Linked DNA regions of Homo sapiens. The protein of the gene in region 1 purifies or fractionates together with the protein of each later gene. This does not show direct contact. Each region holds a gene or a part of one and is shown in the gene's direction. Other genes may lie near its edges. The genes, in order: KNG1, MRC2 and PPP2R2C.

The links.
Region 2: the proteins of KNG1 (region 1) and MRC2 purify together in Homo sapiens (affinity purification with mass spectrometry; one large-scale study listed by BioGRID and IntAct). This does not show direct contact.
Region 3: the proteins of KNG1 (region 1) and PPP2R2C purify together in Homo sapiens (affinity purification with mass spectrometry; one large-scale study listed by BioGRID and IntAct). This does not show direct contact.

The regions. Positions count from the first base shown.
Region 1 is NC_000003.12:186,715,931-186,720,202, forward strand, and holds the start of KNG1 (kininogen-1 isoform 1 precursor), read left to right. Parts: upstream 1-1,428; 5' UTR 1,429-1,612; coding exon 1,613-1,807; intron 1,808-4,174; coding exon 4,175-4,272. UniProt on the Homo sapiens protein: Kininogens are inhibitors of thiol proteases.
Region 2 is NC_000017.11:62,634,036-62,637,685, forward strand, and holds part of MRC2 (C-type mannose receptor 2 precursor), read left to right. Parts: intron 1-3,650. UniProt on the Homo sapiens protein: May play a role as endocytotic lectin receptor displaying calcium-dependent lectin activity. Internalizes glycosylated ligands from the extracellular space for release in an endosomal compartment via clathrin-mediated endocytosis.
Region 3 is NC_000004.12:6,465,983-6,469,632, reverse strand, and holds part of PPP2R2C (protein phosphatase 2, regulatory subunit B, gamma), read left to right. Parts: intron 1-3,650. UniProt on the Homo sapiens protein: The B regulatory subunit might modulate substrate selectivity and catalytic activity, and might also direct the localization of the catalytic enzyme to a particular subcellular compartment.

The DNA.
Region 1 (4,272 bases):
AGATTGAAAATAGTCCAAACATCTATGTCCTGTGTCAAAAAAAAAAAAAGGAAAAAAGAAAGAAAAAGAAAAATTAGGTTTGTCCTCATGAACATGGCTCTACAGACTTTTTAAAAAAATAAAGTCTGAACAAGGAGCAGAGTGAATAGGCCGAATTTTTTTTTTTTTTTTTTTTTTTTGGACAGAGTTTTGCTCTTGTTGCCCAGGCTGGATTGCAATGGCGCAATCTCAGCTCACTGCAATCTCCACCTCCCGGGTTCCAGCAATTCTCCTGCCTCAGCTTCCCGAGCAACTAGGATTACAGGCATGTGCCACTACGCCCGGCTAATTTTGTATTTTTAGTGGAGATGGGGTTTCTCCATGTTGGTCAGGCTGGTCTCGAACTCCCGACCTCAGGTGATCCACCCATCTCAGCCTCCCAAAGTGCTGGGATTACAGGTGTGAGCCACCGTGCCTGGCCAATTTTTACTGGAGTAAGGATGTTGATACCATCAAGCCTCACACTTCTGCTGAGATTATCAACTGTAGTTTTCCAATGTTGGTCTACAGGTGGGGACCATTCTGTAATATAGTTTCCCCACTCTGTGTTGATGTGAGGAAAATAAGAATAATAAAGTTTTATTGCTGGCTTTGAGGGAGAAGGGTTCTATGACCCGCCTTGGGGAAGAGAAATTCTAGCTTCTGTGGCCTGCCTTGAGAGAAGTGGAGCAGGAGAAAGACGGGCAGGAGAAAGCAAGAAAGAGACTTTGCTTTTGCAGCCTTTTTAATGTCTTTCAGTTCAAAGTACTCGGCATGCCAAAGAGCCATATTTGGGGCTATCTTTTTCTGTGCCAAACCAACAACACCAAACCAGAAAGAAGCAAGCATAGGGAATCCAGGGCTTCACTCAACCCATCCCTTCCTATGCTTTTCCTCTATCTCCACCCTGGGAGCAATTTTCTTTTACAGAACTAATGCAACTGAGCAGAGAAAGGCTGGCCTGTCCAGAGAGCAGATAGGACGCCCATATTTTATTTTCAGTTGTGCCAATGTCCTGCATGGGACTCCTGGAACTCACTGGATGCCCCTGTGCATGAGCTTCTTAGGCATGTAATAGAATTAACAGCAGTCTGCTTCTATGCAGGTAGGTATCCTGCAAAGAAACTTTGTATGAAATGTGTCTGCACATTGTACTCATTCTTGCATTGTTTACCCATGTAGTGACCTTCAAAAATGGCTTTGCAAAAGTCACAGGGGAATAACCGAGTTAGTAGGCACTTGTTTCCCCTCCTTCATCAGATTCTGCTCTGATTTGCTACATAAAGTTGTATAATCACCTGGAAATATGCACTGTGCTGCCACGTGATTTTCAAATGCAAATGAGCAGGTTAACAACCCCAGTGTTGCAATGTTCTAGCTGTAAATATGTTTGGATAACCCAGCAGAGCCATTTAACCTTTGGGAACAAGGCAACTAGCGTCTGGCAGCAGGAATCCAACCAGTGCCCTGAGTTCTGAGGCAGAGAGGAGGACAGAAGAAACAAGAGGCTGGAGATTGTCAAATTCAGTATCCCAGTTGGCTCTTGATTCTTGGTGAAACCATCCCTCAGCTCCTAGAGGGAGATTGTTAGATCATGAAACTAATTACCATCCTTTTCCTCTGCTCCAGGCTGCTACTAAGTTTAACCCAGGAATCACAGTCCGAGGAAATTGACTGCAATGACAAGGATTTATTTAAAGCTGTGGATGCTGCTCTGAAGAAATATAACAGTCAAAACCAAAGTAACAACCAGTTTGTATTGTACCGCATAACTGAAGCCACTAAGACGGTGAGTGAATTGTGTTTAACCTTGAAGTCACTTGGGATTTGTACTATCACTAGGAGTCCAGGCCTCACACACACACACACATACCACCACCAGCACCCACCACCACCACCCACCACCCACCACCATCACCCACCACCACCACCACAACCACCACCACCACCCACCACCACCACCACCATCCACCACCACCCACCACCCACCACCACCCACCACCATCACCCACCACCCACCACCCACCACCACCCACCATCATCACCCACCACCACCCACCACCATCACCCACCACCCACCACCACTCGCCACCATCACCCACCACCATCACCCACCACCCACCACCCACCACCACCAACCACCACCATCCACCACCACCAACCACCACCCACCACCACTACCACCCCTCACCACCCACCACCACCGCCACCCACCACCCACCACCATCACCCACCACCACCACCATCCACCACCACCACCCAACCACCACCACCCACCACCCACCACCATCACCCACCACCCACCACCACCCACCACCCACCACCCACCACCATCACCCACCACCTACCACCCACCACCCACCACCACCACCACCCACCACCACCCACCACCCACCACCACCACCACCCACCACCACCCACCACCACTACCACCCCTCACCACCCACCACCACCGCCACCCACCACCCACCACCATCACGCACTACCAAATATGTGATCATCAAAGGTAGAAGCTTACAACTTGTGGAAAGACAGATACCACTCTCTGGCCTGGGGTGGGAGGACAGAGTATGACTCGTCCTCAGGCAGGTTGGCTTCCTGGATGATCAGAGAAGTAGAATCTAGGGTGAAATGAAACAAAAGTAGATGGAGAAATCTCAACAGGACCAAGTAGAGAGGGAGAATTTAGGAATTTAGTTAGACTGCAGCAAAAGAATTCACTGGGTCTCTGGCCCTAGGCTAAAAACTATAGAACTCCAAACCTTTAATGGGAGGGGGTACTTCATGGGGCATGTCTAAGAGGAGTGAGGAATGAGGTTAATGTGATTCTACGGAATTAGACAGAAGTCTGTATGGCTGAATGTACTGGGTTTAACAGCAACGTTTTAGTTAGTTTTTGATATTATTGCAATGATGCACTCCAGCAGGAGACAAATCCTGGCAGGATGCATGGTTCAAAGAAATACCAATCTTTCAAGAGTATGTTTAAACAAATTTCACTATAAAAGACTATATCTCTGGGAATGTCAAGCAATTGGTTACTTTAGCAGAAAAAAAAAAACTAGCCATGTGACAACATGGGGATAAAGGAAAATAAACACAGTGGACATGTTATTTTTTCTGAAAGTAAAATCGAGCCATTTTCTTTCATAATCTAGTACAGTCATGTGAGAAATTCTGCTTCATGGTGATCTCAAGCAACAGTTTATTGGTGGTGTGGTACCCAATAGATTGTGGGTATGGTTGTAAATATACTAAAAAACATTAAATTGTATGCCTTTAGTGGGTAAATTTTATGGCATGTAAATTATATCTCAATAAAGCTGTTTAAAAAAGAAAAAGTAGGAAACAAAATAAACCAAATAAAAGTACTAAAATCACCCATAATTAATTCCACCATACAGAGATAACTGTTAACATTTGTTTAAGGTTTTCTTGTTTGCTTTTTCTAATTTGTAAAAGTCATATACGTTCATTAGGGGAAAAAGACCACTTAGAAATGTTTGCTTGGGCCGGGCGCGGTGGCTCATGCCTGTAATCCCAGCACTTTGGGAGGCCAAGGCGGGGGGATCACGAAGTCAGGAGATCGAGACCATGGTGAAACTCAGTCTCTACTAAAAAATACAAAAAAGTAGCCAGGCGTGGTGGAGGGCGCCTGTAGTCCCAGCTACTCTGGAGGCTGAGGCAGGAGAATGGCGTGAACCCGGGAGGCAGAGCTTGCAGTGAGCCGAGATCACGCCACTGCACTCCAGCCTGGGCGACAGAGCGAGACTCCATCTCAAAAAAAAAAAAAAGAAATGTTTGCTTGAAGAAGAAAGTGAAAGATAATTATAATCTCACCACTGACAGACAAACATTTTAACAGCTTGCTGTGTATCTTTCCAGACTTTTAAAAGACATAGATTTATATATAAACCAGTTTTGACAAAAATGGGCTAATACTATGCATACTGCTTTGTAACCTTTAAAAGTACATTGTGAATATATTATAAACATTCTTTCACATAAATGTTTATGATAGAAATATAAATATATTTTAAGTGAATGCTTTGCTCTCAAGTCAAAGATCAATATTCCTAACTTTACCGGAACCCACTAGAATTATTTGCTGTTGGGTCAGTTGGATGAACCCTAAGTATCTTTGGCTGCTTTTCAGGTTGGCTCTGACACGTTTTATTCCTTCAAGTACGAAATCAAGGAGGGGGATTGTCCTGTTCAAAGTGGCAAAACCTGGCAGGACTGTGAGTACAAGGA
Region 2 (3,650 bases), on another chromosome or scaffold:
AGGAGTAGCACTGACGGCTCAGCTGCTTATACAATTGTTACTTCTTGATGATATGCTAAACAAGGGGTGGATTATTCATGAGTTTTCTGGGAAAGGGGTGGGCAATTCCCGGAACTGAGGGAGTCTTCCCTTTTTAGACCCTATAAGGTAATTTCTTGACGTTGCCATGACATTTGTAAACTGTCGTGGCGCTGATAGGAGTATCTTTTAGCATGCCAATGCGTTATAATTAGTGTATAAAAAAATGGGCAGTGAGAATGACCACAAGTCATTTTTTTTTTTTGAGATGGAGTCTCACTCTGTTGCCCAGGCTGAAGTGCGATGGCGTGGTCTTGGCTCACTGCAACCTCTGCCTCCCAGGTTCAAGCAATTCTCCTGCCTCAGCCTCCCAAGTAGCTGGGACTGTAGGCATGTGCCACTACACGTGGCTAATGTTTGTACTTTTAGTAGAGATGGGATTTTACCATGTTGACCAGGCTGGTCTTGAACTCCTGACCTCATGATCTGCCTGCCTCAGCCTCCCAAAGTGCTGGGATTACAGGCGTGAGCCACCACGCCTAGCCCAGAGATCACTTTTGTCACCTTTTAGTTTTGGTGGGATTTGGGTGGCTTCTATACTGCGTGCTGTTTTTTCAGCAAGGTCTTTGTGACCTGTGTCTTGTGTTGACCTCCGGTGTCATCCTGTGGCTTAGAATGCCTAACCTCTTGGGAACGCAGCCCAGGAGTTCCCAGCCTCGTTTTACCCAGCCCCTTTTAAAGATGGAGTTGCTCTGGTTTGAACACCTCTGATACAACTTTTTTTTTTTTTTTTTTAGGACGGAGTCTCCCTCTGTCACCCAGGCTGGAGTGCAGTGGCACAATCTTGGCTCACCACAACTTCCACCTTCCGAGTTCAGGCGATTCTCTTGCCTCAGCTTCCCAAGTAGCTGGGACTACAGGCACGTGCCACCACGCCCAGCTAATTTTTGTAGTTTTAGTGGAGACGGGGTTTTACCATGTTGGCCAGACGGGTCTTGAACTCCTGACCTCAGGCGATCCACCCGCCTTGGCCTCCCAAAGTGCTGGGATTACAGAAGTGCACCACCATGCCCAGCCCCATTGTTTTTTTTTTAAATTGAAGCAGGTCTGAACCTGTTACTTCATTGCTATTTTTCTCTTTTTTTTTTTTTTTTTTTTTCAGAAATAGCCTCAATCAGAGGCATTACTTCTTCGTGACACTTTGCTAACTACTGTAAGTGCCAAAAAGTAATCATAGTTTTTCTGAAAGTAAAAGAAATACCAAAGAAAAAAAATCCCACCCTCAATGGTCCTACCCCCTAAAGCCCCTCAATTTATCACCATCCTCTTTATCACCTTCCTCTTCATCCTTACACTTCTCTATTTAACCTTCATTTAGGGAAGGATAAGGAGCTTCCTGGGACTCTGGAATAAAACCAAGACAGACTAGGGAACACTGGGATGGTTGGGCATACCTCTCCCCTTTTTGCCTCTAGTTGCCTTTAGCCTACTGTCTGAGGGACTGCCTCCCAAGGGTCATACTGATGAGGCTCCCTAATTACTAAATTAAGTGACCTTTCTTAGGCCTCACCTTGCAGCATGCATGCTGTTCATTGGCCTCAATTGTAAGAATGGGCCAGGCATGGTGGCTCATGCCTGTTACTCCAGTGCGTTTGGAGGCCACGGGAGGAGAGACTGCTTGAGGCCAGGAGTTTGAGACCAGCTGGGGCAACATAACAAGACCCTGTGTCTAGAATTTTTTTTTTTTTTTCTGAGACGGAGTCTCGCTCTGTTGCCCAGGCTGGAGTGCAGTGGCACGATCTCCACTCACTGCAAGCTCTGCCTCCCCGGTTCACGCAATTCTCCTGCCTCAGCCTCCCGAGTAGCTGGGACTACAGGCGCCCGCCACCACGCCCGGCTAATTTTTTGTGTTTTTAGTAGAGACAGGGTTTCACTGTGTTAGCCAGGATGGTCTCAATCTCCTGACCTCGTGATCCACCTGCCTCGGCCTCCCAAAGTGCTAGGATTACAGGCGTGAGCCACCGCGCCCGGCCAATTTTTTTTTTTTTAAATTAGCTGGGCACAGTGGTGCGTGCCTGTAGTCTCAGCTACTCAGGAGGCTGAGGCAGGAGGATTACTTGAGCCCAGGAGTTGGAGGCTGCAGTGAGCTATGATTGCACCACTGCACAACCTGGGCAACAGAGTGAGACCCTGTCGCAAAAAAAAAAAAAAGTAAAAATGCATGCTCAGTGGAAAACATTCAAACCATACACAAGTAAGTGCAAAAAAATGTGAAGTCCACTCCCTTACACTACACTGATTACACACTAGCACAGGCCACAGTCTACCACTGGTAGATTCTGTGGGTAATCTTCCCAACCAAGATTCCCCAATGAAGATTAGTAGTAGTTCATTGGGTAATCTTCTGATTTTTTTTTTTTTTTTTTTTTTTTTGAGACGGAGTCTCGCTCTGTCGCCCAGGCTGGAGTGCAGCGGCGGGATCTCGGCTCACTGCAAGCTCCACCTCCCAGGTTCACGCCATTCTCCCACCTCAGCCTCCCGAGTAGCTGGGATTACAGGCACTCACCACCACGCCTGGCTAATTTTGTTTTTGAATTTTTAGTAGAGACGGGGTTTCACCGTGTTAGCCAGGATGGTCTCAACCTCCTGACCTCGTGATCCGCCCGCCTCAGCCTCCCAAGTGCTGCGATTACAGGCGTGAGTCACAGCACCTGGCCTGTCGTTGTTTTTTAACTAAAGACAGAGTCTCACTATGTTGCCCAGGCCTGGCTTTGAACTTCTGGGCTCATGCGATTCTTCTGCCTTGGCCTCCCAAAGTGCTGGGATTACAGGCACAAACCACTGCACCTGGACCAATGGACACTTTTGAAAACTCTCTTCCCCCGGCCTTTGTGGTGTAATTTACATCCACAGTTTCCTCCCTTAGGGTCTTCCCTTCCACCCTCAGTCCAGAGCTGGCATTGCTGCCAGGTTAGCGCTGCTAAGGGGAAGCTTGAATCGATGTAAACTTTCTGAATTTAGAATTTCTGCTAGGCTCGGTGACTCATGCCTGTAATCCCAGCACTTTGGGAGGCCGAGGCAGGCGGATCACCTGAAGTCAGGAGTTCAAGACCAGCCTGGCCAGGTAAAACCCCCGTCTCTACTAAAAATACAAAAATACAAAATAGTGAAACCCTGTCTCTACTAAAAATACAAAAATCAGCCATGTGTGATGGTGCATGCCTGTAATCCCAGCACTTTGGGAGGCTGAGGCAGGTGGATCACTTGAGGTCAGGGGTTCGAGACTAGTCTGGCCAACATGGTGAAACCCTGTCTCTCCTGAAAATACAAAAATTAGCTGGGCATGGTGGCACATGCCTGTAATCCCAGCAGCTCGGGAGGCTGAGGCAGGAGAATCACTTGAACCCTGGAGGTGGAGGTTGCAGTGAGCTGAGATCACGCCATTGCACTCCAGCCTGGGTAAAAGAGGAAGACTGTGTCTCAAAAAAAAAAAAAAAGAAAAGAAAAAGAAAGAATTCCCGGCCTTCTCAGTGCTTGTGCAGGTCAAGCTGAGCTCCTTACCGTTCCCATAGCTCCCAGTACTGCCCAACCCGGACTCTGCTCAGGCTTTTTTTCCCTGCCAGGAGCACCAG
Region 3 (3,650 bases), on another chromosome or scaffold:
TAAAGGGAGAAATAATAACGACCTTTCATACAGGGTTGCTGGGATGATCAGTGATTTTGCTAATATCAAAAGTGCCCAGCACAGTGCTTGGGTTGTTGGAGGCATTGAACACATGGCATTGTTATTATTTATATGCCTTGTAACTGGAAGAGCCTGTGGGCAAACAGTGGATGCTAAAATTCAGTTTGCGGAAGAACCAGGTGCACAAACTCCTGTTCTACCTGTGGTTGAGTCTACACTCCCCCACCACACCCCAGCTGCTCTGATCTACCTCCTGTTCCTTGAGCAGGCCATTTTCTTTCTTGCTTCAGGGCGTTTGCAATGGCTGTTGCCTGGAATACCCACCTCCTGCCTTTCTCACCACTGACTCTTTCTCATCCTTTGGGCCCCATGTCCAATGTCATCTTTGCCCGTGGGAGCCCTGCTTGGGTTCCTGAGTCTCTTGTAAAATCTCAAACATCTTAGGAAGAGTTTAGGTTTTGTTAGTCATTCACATCTTGGTGTGAATTCGTCAGAGCAGGTTGGATTTTTTTTTTTTTTTTTTTTTTTTTTTTTGGTGGCAGGGCTGGGTGGCTTACTCTTGGCTGGGCTCAACTGCATTGAGGGTTATGGTGATGATTAGGTGTACCTGCAGGCCACCTGGGGGCACAGAGAACTTTGCATGAATGGGGTCAGGGTGTGGGGAGAGCAGTGCAGCTGATAGGGCACTGGGCCCTGGGCCCTGGACCCTGGAGGGTGCTAGGAAGTCTCCATCTAGTTAGACATTTCTCAAGAGCTGGATATGGTTCCAGGAAGGACTCTTCCTGGCTCTGTTCTTTCTCTTTTTGCGGCAGGCCTCAGTACTTAGCTTTAGAGTGAGTTGAATAAGCACTTCCAGACTAGACTGAACTTACAAAACCCATCCATCCTTCCTTTGCTTAGCACCATTTGCCAAGCACATCCTGCCCTGGGCAGCAGTGATGACCAAGACACAGGAGCTCAGCCAAGGGGAGGTGGTTCAGGCTGACCAGGTAGATCCTGGCAGTGACTGGGTCTTTCTGGGGAGCAACAGTCACTCTCATGTGCCTGACAGGTAAGGCACTTCCGGAGCACACTTTTCAGCTGAGGCCAGAGGCACAGCTTCCCCTTGTTTGAGCATCTCAGCCATCACACACTGTTGGACACTCATGCTTTTTGCATCTGCATAAAGGATGTACCCATGTTTTCCTAACTCCCATCCCTGGATGTCCTGTGTGATTTCAGAGTAGTCTGTTTATTCCCACAGAGTTGTCCTGATTTTATAGTTGAGGAAGTGAAGGATGCTTGGGAATTGCTAAGGTCATCATGGGGTCCTGAGGCTGTCTGAACGCAGCAGGCAGGCAGGTTTTCCTGCATGGAATTGTCTGCAGGTTTTGAACTGGTTGTGCCCTGGATACCATCTACTTTCTGCCCAGGAAACCACACTGAAGAGGGGATGCTGCTTGTGGGAGACTCAGCATTCAGTGAAATCTGCACCCTTATGGTGGACGTTGCAGCTGATCTCCACAACAGTTAGTCTCTCTTCTTCCAAGGAGAACACATATGGTTCCTAGTAAGAGATCTCAGGCCATAGCTGGATGTGATCAGTGCAAGGATGATCTCATTCCCCTTGCAGTGACTGGTTCCAGAATGGATGTGGGAGTCAGTTCTGGAGGTTGAGTGGAAAGTAGGGAGAACCACAGGTAGTTGGTCCCTCTCTTGTGATGGGAACAGGGAAACCTTGTGGTGGCTGGCAGCCATCTGACACCATGAGGGGAGCAAGTCTTAGGCCACCACCGTTGATGGCAGGGCAGAGAGTGAGTGAGATCCAGGACATAGAGGCCTGATGTCCAGGCCGCCTCTGAACTTCCAGTTACATGAGCTGTTACTTTTCCTTTTCGTTGTGCACTTTCAAGTCTCCGTTACTTGCAGCCCATAGCACCCCAACTCGTACAGCCCTGACTGCTTATCAAGAAAACCAGGAGGCTGATCTGTAACCCACAGCTAAGACTCGAGATACATAAAACCCAGAGGGATTTTTGTTTGCTTTCTGTTTTGAGAACCCTCTTTCATTTCACTCAAGTCAAGGTTGCCAATTTCTGGTTTTCCCTCCTCAGTCCTATTGAGGAGGTATTTTTGGTCAGATAAGAGAGCCTGAGATCTGGCATCGGGAGATCTGGGTTCCTGGTGGGGTCTGACCCTGGGTCTGTAATATTGGGCAGGTCACACGGTCTCTCTGAGCCTCAGTTTATTCTTAATAGATCAGTAAGTGATGATGTCTATTCTTTAGGGGCCAGAGTTAGACTAGCCCTTAGAACTGTCATCAGACTGGCTAGCCTAACTTCCACCCCAACCTATGGGGAAACTGAGGCTAAGAGGGGGGACATTAGTGGTGGCACAGAGGGAGATTAGGGAGAGTCAGCCTTTGACTTTTGAAAATCAAGATGTGGACTGTTCAGATTCTGTGTTCCTTTCGCTTCTGTTTGGAAACGCCACTTACATAAGCTTCCCTTGGGCTTCACAGCGAGTGTGGGCTCCATTTCAGTGCTGGGGTGCCCTCCATCAAATCACATCACTTTCTGAGCCTCAGTTTCCCTGCACTGCCTGGTGCCCTGGGTTGTCATGAGGCTGTAAGGAGCCAAGGGCATGTGGACTCTGAAGTTCTACACGTGTAAAAGGCGACTGCTGTCAATTTCCCCAAATTGTAGTGTAGGCCAACTCCCACGCCCCTGCTGTAAGCAATGTGCTCCTTTCTTTTTAATCAACCCGAACTTAAAGCTTGGCGCAGTCACAGAGCACGGTTTTTCTCATTTTCTTTCTGGAAGATGAAAATCAAATTCTAATAAAATTTTTCCACTCCATCTCCTGACTGTTGTCATTTGCTACACTTTTTAGTGTTTATCCTTAAAGCTTGCAGAGCTAAGGGATGTTTGGTAAGAAGTGTTTAGGCCTTGAGACTGGAAGAGCCGCTGTATGAAGCGCTAGGCTCCATGGAGAGTGTGATGGGGAGTAAGAGAAGGAGAGTGAACTCCTGTGAGTCCACCAAGCAGAGGGACATACTCTCAGCAACTGGGGTATTTCCTTCCAGTCTTTTTTTAATGCCCATGTCTGTTTTTAATGAAAACTGTAATCTGTCTGTATCAACAATTTTGAAGGCTACTTTTCTAGTTTGGCATGAGATTATAGGAATTTTCCAGGGCTTTGCTCCAGGGCTGGCTTCATGGATATGCAACCTGTGTGGTCATCTAGGTCCCCACACTCAGAAGGACCTGTGCTTGGGTTCATGTTCTGCTGTTACTATCTTGAAATTTTTAAGAATTTCACTTTGGATCCTGTGTTTTGTAAGCGAAATCTGATGGGACGGGGGAGCCTGGGAATGAGCAGAGGGGTACGTGTGGCAGGCGAGTCTGTGGTTACACATATTGGCTCCCACAGCACGCTACCCTGTGTTCACTTGAGCGTCTGAGCCCCATGCACAGTGGACAGCTCATGCACCTTCTCAGTGCGTCTGTAGTTTCACAGGCAGGGGCCATGCTTTCAAATAATGCTCCAAGGCATTGATGTTCTCATGCAGTGACTTCTAAGAAACATGAATGACGCAGGAACCCTATGGTGTCCTTTCTTAACGTGTGTTACGTGCCCATATTTGCCAA